2 linked regions of the Homo sapiens genome follow. The protein of the gene in region 2 purifies or fractionates together with the protein of the main gene of each other region. This does not show direct contact. Each region holds a gene or a part of one and is shown on either strand. Other genes may lie near its edges.

Evidence for each region. Proteins that work in one complex are often made in the same cells at the same time.
Region 1: the proteins of CCDC50 (region 2) and AIM2 purify together in Homo sapiens (affinity purification with western blotting; one study listed by BioGRID). This does not show direct contact.

What each region holds. Positions count from the first base shown.
Region 1 is NC_000001.11:159,070,267-159,073,766, forward strand, and holds part of AIM2 (interferon-inducible protein AIM2), read right to left. Parts: intron 3,254-3,500; 5' UTR 3,234-3,253; coding exon 2,972-3,233; intron 1-2,971. UniProt on the Homo sapiens protein: Sensor component of the AIM2 inflammasome, which mediates inflammasome activation in response to the presence of double-stranded DNA (dsDNA) in the cytosol, leading to subsequent pyroptosis.
Region 2 is NC_000003.12:191,373,573-191,379,151, reverse strand, and holds part of CCDC50 (coiled-coil domain-containing protein 50 long isoform), read right to left. Parts: intron 4,091-5,579; coding exon 3,563-4,090; intron 1-3,562.

The sequences.
Region 1 (3,500 bases), on a different chromosome or scaffold from region 2:
AAACCTTGTTTTATCATAAGAACCTAAAAGCTTTCCTTGTACCTATTAGCAATTCAATGGATATTTACTGAATGGATGAAGAAATGGATGGATGGGTGGCATGTTGGCTCCTCACTAATGCCTACAAAATGCAGTCGTATACTCTGGCTGGGCTCCTCCACGTCTATGGTCAGGTTATATGTTATCGTGAAAAGCCAACTCCTACTCCTGATTTTTAAAAAGACCATGTAACAAGATGGCCATGTTTGATGACTTAAGGCACTCTCAGGCAGAAGAGGGCCTGGGAAATTATTAGATGTTATTTCTGATAGAATTTGAACAATTCTGGACTGAAATAGCAAGGCAATCACTGATTTTACTAAAAAGAGAAACGATTTAATTATTAGAGCTAAGAGTAGAATGAACTGTCTTATGAGGTAGTAGGTACTCTGTCATTACCTTTCAAAGATCAGAAAGTGGTTGACTGTCTGACAGGGATATTGTAGCAGGATCTCTGCACTAGGAAGAAGTTAAACTAACCTTCCAATGGTAAGTTAGTTCCATGAAATTGGTTTCAGAAAGGTATGCAGATAAAGTCTCTCTTCTATGTTCACAGCATCGGAGAGAAAACAGCATCAAGGGAGGCGGAAGGAATCAACCTACCATTCTACCACATCACATCAGCCATATTTCATTTCACACACTGTGGTACCAATGCAATATTTGTGGACAAGCTTGTCTGCCAATTATAAATCTCTCATTTGCCTTAATAATCAGGTGCACATTGTTACTGATTATTTCATTTATCATTTTCAGCATTTTATTTTAATCTTGCAGGACTTTTGTGGACTTTGATCACATTTTCTCTTAGCTTCCTTTTTCTACGCTTATGTGTCCTTATATTTTCTCATCTTGCTTCATACAAAAGCTTCTCCTGTCTACTAATTATTGCCTCTGTCTTCATTAAAGATTCTCCAGGTATCTTCTACCTTCCATGAGGTGAGGTCATGAGTAGAATAGCATATAGCACTCTACATGCAGACATGCAATGGCAATGGAGAAGGATCACTTAACCAAGAATGACAGATTAACTGTTCAAAAAATAAAACAAAAACTGTTTTCCTAAAATAATAGAAATAGCATGGACACACAAAAATTTCCTACATTCAAAAGCGGCCTAAGTATGTCCGTGGATAGAATTTTAGAGCTATGAAGGAACTTAACTGCCTTCTTGTATAGCATGCAAGAAGCATACTTTGTGTTTTGTTGTTGTTGTTGTTTGAGACAGGGTCTCACTGTTGTTGCCCAGGCAGGAGTGCAGAGGTGTGATCTCAGCTCACTGCAACCTCTCCCTCCCAGGTTCAAGTGATTCTCGTGCCTCAGCCTCCCAAGTAGCTGGCATTACAGATGCCCGCCACCATGCCTGGCTAATTTTTGTATTTTTAGTAGAGACAAAGTTTCACTATGTTGGCCAGGCTGATCTCGAACTCCTGAACTCAAGTGATCCACCCGCCTTGGCCTCCCAAAGTGCTGGGATTAAAGGCGTGAGCCACTGCGCCTGGCCCAAAAGCATACTTTGAATCCTACAACTGTTACATTTGGAGACTCTCATTTGGGAGAGTCCTTGGATAATCTACTCCTGAGTTTCCAAGCTAGTCCCAAACTGGATCTTTTTTAGCTAAGCAGAATAACAAAATCCCAGAATCATTAGAATAGCAAAATGGGGAGAAGATTGTAGAAGGGGAAATTTTGTTCTATCCTGGTCAAAGAGAAGAATTAATTCTTGATTTATTACCAAAATAAAAGATATTTCTAAATATCTCAGCCTATGTTTGCCAATATGCCTAGATTCCTGGCTCATCCCAGATAAGAAAAACACAGGGCAATGTTTTGGTTGGTTACTTGGAAGTAACATGTGTAGTTACTGCCATCTAAGGGCCATCTCTAAGAACTACACCTTCTAACTTAAAGCCTGGGAAAACCACCACTCCTTTCTCTTTAGTGCCTTAGAAACTACCTAACAGTTTATATCTGTATAGAATTATGAATGTACATAGTATCACTTATGTGGCTTCATTTAGCCTTCCTATAACTCATGTGTGAGAAGCCATGTCACCCTTGTTGTACACCCACAAATGCTACTAAAAGCTATTATAATTTTTGCTGCTACTGTTGTACTTTGAATCCTAAAACTGTTGCATTTGGAGACTTTCATTTTGGAGAGTCCTTGAGTGATATGCTCCTCTGTTAGCTCCTTTTTGTTCTTCAGACATAAAGCTGGGACATATCAATTGTTCTTAGTAAACAAAATCAGGAATTTAAACTAAATGTAGATAATTCAGATGGAGATGAGTGATTTATTGAATAATGTAAAAAAAATCTTTGTGTTGTGGGTAATTTATACTGTCACCTGTACTGGAGATAGAGAGGAAAGAAAATCCCTGAAGGTGGATTCTCCCTCCCTTCTGAAGAAGGAGGAGATCATCGCCTAAAGAAGGATAGTCTGGGACCACAGAAAGCTGGGGACAAGGAGAGGAATAGACAGACTGTGTGAAGGAAAAAAGGTGCTCAATATCCTGGTTTACAGTTTTCCAATGCAATAATTTATACTTTCAAGACTTCAGTAGAATGTGACAGCATTACATACTGTGTAAATGGAGTTGGGAGAAGTTAACTTTGAAATTCTACGTCCATATTCACTGCAACTGAACTGGAGACAAAGATGGGCAAGGAGAAAAGATGTTAAATGGAAGTGGTAACCCTAAGGCTGGAAGAAGAGATGCAAACAAAGGCTGGAATGGATTTGTGGAATTTGTAACAAACACTTCCTAGAAGCGATTCTCAGTAAAAGGGGGCAAAGAGACAGGTGCACTAAGTTAGCAAACAAATTCCAACAATGTGCACTGGGGGTCATATCCCAGGGATGCCATGAAAGGAAAGGCCCAGGCTTGGCAGAAAAAGGGACGGGGCAGGTGTGGAACTCCCACATTACCTTTCTCCTTCTCCTCCTGAAGACGTTTTGCCAAAAGCATATAATTCAACTTCTGAAAAATACGAATGGTCTTCATCACTGCAGACACCGCCCCAGCATTTTGAATCATCAAGGTAGCTACTTGTATTCTGTTTGCAGTATGTAGTTTGCCTGTGGCAATATTAAACTCGTCTGAAAGAAAGAACTTAAACCTATCCAGTTCCTCATCAGTGATGTTATCCAGGCCTGTTAGCAAGAGTATCTCCTTGTATTTACTCTCCATCTGACAACTTTGGGATCAGCCTATAAGGAATCCAAAACATGTAAGATTACACCACCAAAAGTGATTCTACATTCAAAATAAAGCAAGGTGAGCTATTAATATTTTTTAAAGAAAAATAAAATATTTGCAGTAGTAAAAGAGATTTGAGTAGGACATAGGTAAGAACTTCTTAAGCAAGGTGATCACTACTCCTGGGAAAGACATCTTCAGAAAGTATACAACACCTCTGGAATTCTCAGAAAACAAGATACATTAGCTGGGCGCGGT
Region 2 (5,579 bases):
AATTAATATTGGCATCACCTGTTTAGTGTATTATGTCCATTAAAATTACTGTAAATTAAAATGATTTTTGTCAAAATCCCTCACCACACTTGACTCACTTGCTGTTAATCTTTAAAAAAATAAAATACAAGTAAACACTGGGCAAATGATGAGAATGTAAGTATTTTGTGAAGCCCACCTTTGTACAACTTTCAACCTGGCTTCTGCGGCTTCAGAAGCCACAGACTCATACACATCTGTATTTCCTACAAAGACAGACTAGTAAACATGGCTTTCTTAGCTTCAGACCTAATAGAACCTGATTGCACAGATCACTTCAAATCAACTCTAGAGCCACGGAGTCTTATGCTGGGCTGGGCTTAATCTAGATTTCTAAGTGGTTTGGGACAGCAAAAACAAACAAACAAACAAACAAAAAAACAGTGGCATAGTCCCAAGAGTGGACCATCTGAAATAGAATATAAATCTCCCTGAGTTATTTAGCTTAGTCAGAACTAGGAAGGCAGATTTCAGAGAAAATGAAATTAGATAAGGAACTCAGTACTGGGCAATGTCAGTGGACAAGATAGTCTGCTATATAAACCATGTTCCAATCTATAGAAAAAATGATACTTCAATAAGCAGCCCAAAGCTTAATTAAGGATGACAGAACATGCCTACCTCCTTCACTTTTGCCATACAGTGAAATAATACAGTGGGATGTGCTCAAATTTCAAGAGACCAAATTTTCTCCACTATTATGCCTCCTAAAGTACACCACAGAATTAGCCAAGAAGATTTTTCACTTTCAGTTTTATTAAAGACACATTGTTTTAAATTCTACCAAAGACAATATTCCATTGAATAGTCTAATTGTTTTGACAGGGTGATAAGACTGTAACCTCTGGCAGTTAAAAAGAGAATGATGACTTAGTAAGAGTCAGAATCTGAGGTAATATCTCTCAGTTCCAAATATTTAGAGGGGAAATGGTTTATTTAAACCCTTGATGTATCACTGGAATCTGTAAATCTCATTAAGTAGAAAATCTCCACAGCCTGGAATACTAAATTTCTGCACTGTCAGGATGCCCATTCTCTGCAGTGTCCTCTGGACCCAAGGTGACAAAAATTTTTGTAAGGATATAGAAAAAGAACTCACAGTGCAGTGTAAGGCCGTCATTAAACAAAGATGTCCAAAAATTTTTTAAATGTAATTAACTGAAGGAAATTAACAGACTAGCTTCCCTCATCTCAGTATCCTAAACAGACTCTAGAAACTAGCTTTCAAAAAATCAGGTGAGTGGTATTTTCAAGTTCCATATATATCTTAATTTCACATTTCCTTGTCTTTTTCTGTTCATCATCCTTCAGATGGAGAACACAAGAACATCCTTAAATGAACACAAAACTTCAGCCTTAAATAAATTTACAGAATAAAATTGTTGAAAGTACTGACAGTCAAGATAAATTTATTCTGAGCTTGGAATAAGGTAAAATGATAGATTCTTTTTGATATCATGTAAGAGTATTTGTAATAAGCCAGTCTGACATTTAGGGAATGCCACAGTATATCTGACTAACAATTCACAGCAGAACAGTGCAGATATTTTATGGCCCTGTGAGTTTAGAAGTTAACCTGCAGAAAATGATGAGCCATTAAGAATTTATAGTCCAATAGAGAAGTAACTCCGAAAGGTTAAGTACCCATTGCCCTGTAGAAAGTTATCTTATACTTAATTTAAAATTTTATTTTGCAGTCCCTTTCAACTGATTCTATTAATGCTGCTCTGCAAATGCTCTTAGAACCAGCTCCGTGTCATCCTGCTAGTTTCTTCATTATTAATGTAAGTTTGGCCTGTCCTAACAACTTTAAGAATTGTGCTTTTACAACAGCAAGAATAGATGCCACTACCTAGTAATTATATTTTAATGTAATCCTCTGACCTGTTCCAGGGAGTTACAAAATCAAATGCCTACGGGGGCTAGAAAGGTAAAATATAAAAAGCAAGCTGAATATAAAATGATAGAAAAGCAGCAGCTCATGTTGTAGTCGTTTTAATATCCGCCTGGTAACATTGTTTTTCAATCCCTTGTGCTGGCAAAATAAAAAACAAAACATTTGCAATTCCAGTAGTGGAGCCTGTGAGTCAGCGTTTAGTGTCATGCTTCCTCAGCCTATTTAAAATATCCTGGAGCATAACTAAAAGCCATAAAGCCTAACTAGCCCTCAGAGCACTCGTGAAAGTCAGATTCACAGAAGCAGAAACGTAGAGGTCAGTGTACATCATTCTTCCTCCATACTTCCCCCACACCTTTGGAACTTGTAAACCTCAAAATGCTAGGGGTGTAACCTCCTCATAAACCTACTCAAGACAGATTATATCACACTTTCCTCTATTTTTCCGCAGCTCTTTATGTCTTCCTAACAAAGTGGATCTAGTTTGGAATTGTTTACAAAGCCATCTTTCTGGCTGAAATCCAAGCACAAAGCCTAAGACAAGGATATTTGTGGCAGCTACTCAGAATGGCTTCTGGAACTAAATTTTAATTTTCTGCATAACCAAGTCCTTCAATAAGAAATAACATGACAGGAAAAACCAACTTAACCTGAATCCGCAACCTAGAAACAAGTTCTCTGACCACAGATAGAGCTTGACTGGCTCCTTGGTACTATGATTCCTAGTGTTACAGACACATGGAAAACATCACCTCAGCAGTTTATAGAAAATAGAGCCATTACTGCGTCAATGATGGACTTCAGAGTTAAGCCTCAGGGGTGCCAGAAATTTGAGGTTTATCTATAATATTTACCTCATTCTTATATAGGTACCAAGAACTTACCTGTATTGGTACTTTAGAACACCAACTGTAGAGTTAGAGCTGGAGAAAGTTACAGCATAAAAAGTAACTTAATGCAATGACTTTAAACTTTTAAGTTCCTAAGAATCCACCTCCAGGTCTAAAACATGTCCAAACTGCCAGGCCTCACTCCAGAGATGATAATACATGTGAAACCCAGACATTTCCATTGTTAGTTAACAGCTGATTCTGATGAAAATGAACTGAGGCATATTATTTGAAAAATACTTTCTTAAAAGACTGCCTATCCAACTCCTCATTTTACAAATGAGAAAGATGAGGTCTAAAAAATACAGTATTTCCGGCTCTATCGGCCTTTTAGTTAGACAAACACTATCAAGACAGGCTCATCAGCTCTTCTGGGTTCACTGAAGTAAAACCAGAAATTCAGGAGTTTTGATTTGGTATCAGAATCTCTGATACACAGTCTCGGTAAATGAAGAACTATATCTGGAATGGGTACCTCTAATACAACCTGGGCATGGAATAACTCTCCAAGAAATCAGTGCATTCTCACAGAAGGGAAAAGTTACAAATATTTTCCTTCTTCTTACAGACCTGAGATTAAGTGTATACCTTTTATAATATGTTGCTCTAGGATTTATTTCAAAGTCATGAGCATGAACTAGAGAGAAAGAAAGGTTGCTTAAGGTACTTATTAAATTCATTGGTTTGTAGTTATATACATGATACCAGGACTTCCATCGAGACTGTCCTCTATTACCTGCGTCATGGAGGTGGAGCTGCTCCTCACTCTCTGAGAATGGAGGAGTCCTGGGCCTGTGTCTCCTTTTTCTGTGCTCACCTTGCCCATGGTCCCTCCCATATACAACTTCCTTGCAGTGAAGCCCTGCTTTTTGTGAGGACTTGGGTGAAAGTCGATCTTGGTGTCGAGACTGTTTTTCCCAATTTCGAGTCTGATGGTTAATCTTAGTCTCCCAGTCATCACATTCAGTGCTCAGAAACACTTCACCACTGATCGTGGGAAGCAGAGGTCTCCGAGGCCTCTCCTGAGTGGACCGTTTCCTTTCATGCTGCTCATTGTTAATATGGGGATTGTCCCTCCCTTTGCCCGAGCTAGAGGATGACAGGGATCTCTTCGATGAACAATGTTGTTCTGGCTCTTCCAAGTTCTCCAGTGGATGTTCTGGTTTCTCTTTCTTGTGCTTCACAGTCTTTCCATCTCTTTGGAGTCTACAAGGTCTTGAGAATCCAGAACCCAATTCCCTGGCCCTCCTTGACCCTGGTTGGTCTGAGTGGAGGCAGAGGGATGTGAAAAATAAAAATGCAGATTAATTTAATGAGAGTTATGAACTCACTACACAGGGGGGAGTCTGGGCTCCAGTTTAACGTACTTTAAAAATGGAGAAAATTGCTTTTTCAACTTAAATTGAGAAGAGGGGATGAGCATTACTGAAACAGTTCATGCATACCTAAAGAATTCTGGGTACATAGCCAAAATGGTAAGAAACTAAAGTGAAACAAATGTGAAAGAAGAGCTTGATCACGATTAGGTAGAGCTAACAACACTTTAATATTTGCCAATAACAAAATTATAGCCATTAAACATTAAGTTCTATTTATAAACCAATTTGAAACTAGTATAGAGTAAAAAGTAGAGGTTGAGGAATCTTGTAAAACAAAAAAATTAAGCTTTGTAATTTCAGACAGAGGCTTTCAAATATTCTTACTGGAAATGCCAATAAAACTATCAGAATATTGCTAGTTTCTCTTGAGTTCAGAGGAATGATCCACAGATTTTTATATGCCTCCATCTGCCCACTTTATGTGGCCAAAGCAAACATACCCAGTCACTTCAGAAATTAGCCCTCTATTACAGTTCAATATAAAAGAGGATCAAGTAGATGAGAATTTTGAGTTCATGACCCTGTTATCTGTAGATAATTCTGTTCTCAATCTTAGTTGAAACTTGGCAAAGGAAAAAAATTTAAAGGGTTGCCTTGATGGAATATATAAAAAGGAGTCGCTTCCTAAATACATTTCAAAAAACTGTATGATATTGTATTCTTTGTAGAAAAATATAATATATGCTAAGTATATGTCCCCAAATTTAATATAAACTTCAAAAACAGCACAAAAATAATTCTTTTTCAGGTCTTTTTTAGGCACAAGTATAATGTGAAGACAAAGGCAGCAAATGCATATGCACTTTATAAGAATATACTGATTTTAACATTTTCTAAAACTTTTACTACGTTTTGGAAATAACAACGAAAAATCCCAATTCCATGGAAAATTGCTATGAAAGCTAAGATTCCCCGATGGAATTAACCACTTGCTGAACTGCATTTGAAAGAGCTACCGTAAGTTGATGAGATGTAAAGAAAATAAAAAACTATACGTTTTCCTTTAAACTGTTTCATTTGATATTAATCTGTTAAAGGAACAGAGCAAGAAAGAGGTATGTGCTAAATGTACCAATTATGTAAGTTTCCATTAAAAACCTCAAATTGTTTCCTCTTGTGCTTTCCAGAAGAAAAGAAAGCTTGCTTCCCAAGACAATACTAAATTAAAATTTGTTTTCTAAACAGTCTGTAGAAGTATTTATCTTCATCATTTATGGGTAAGTTTTATTTTACATAAAATCAAAAGCAAAACAGAAGAATTACCCGGTGATAAAAACAAATTATCTGCTCTTTTAAATAAACTATTATTTTAAGACTATCGTGACAACATGAGAATCAAGTGACTACTGCTGTAAATTTATATAATACAGACCA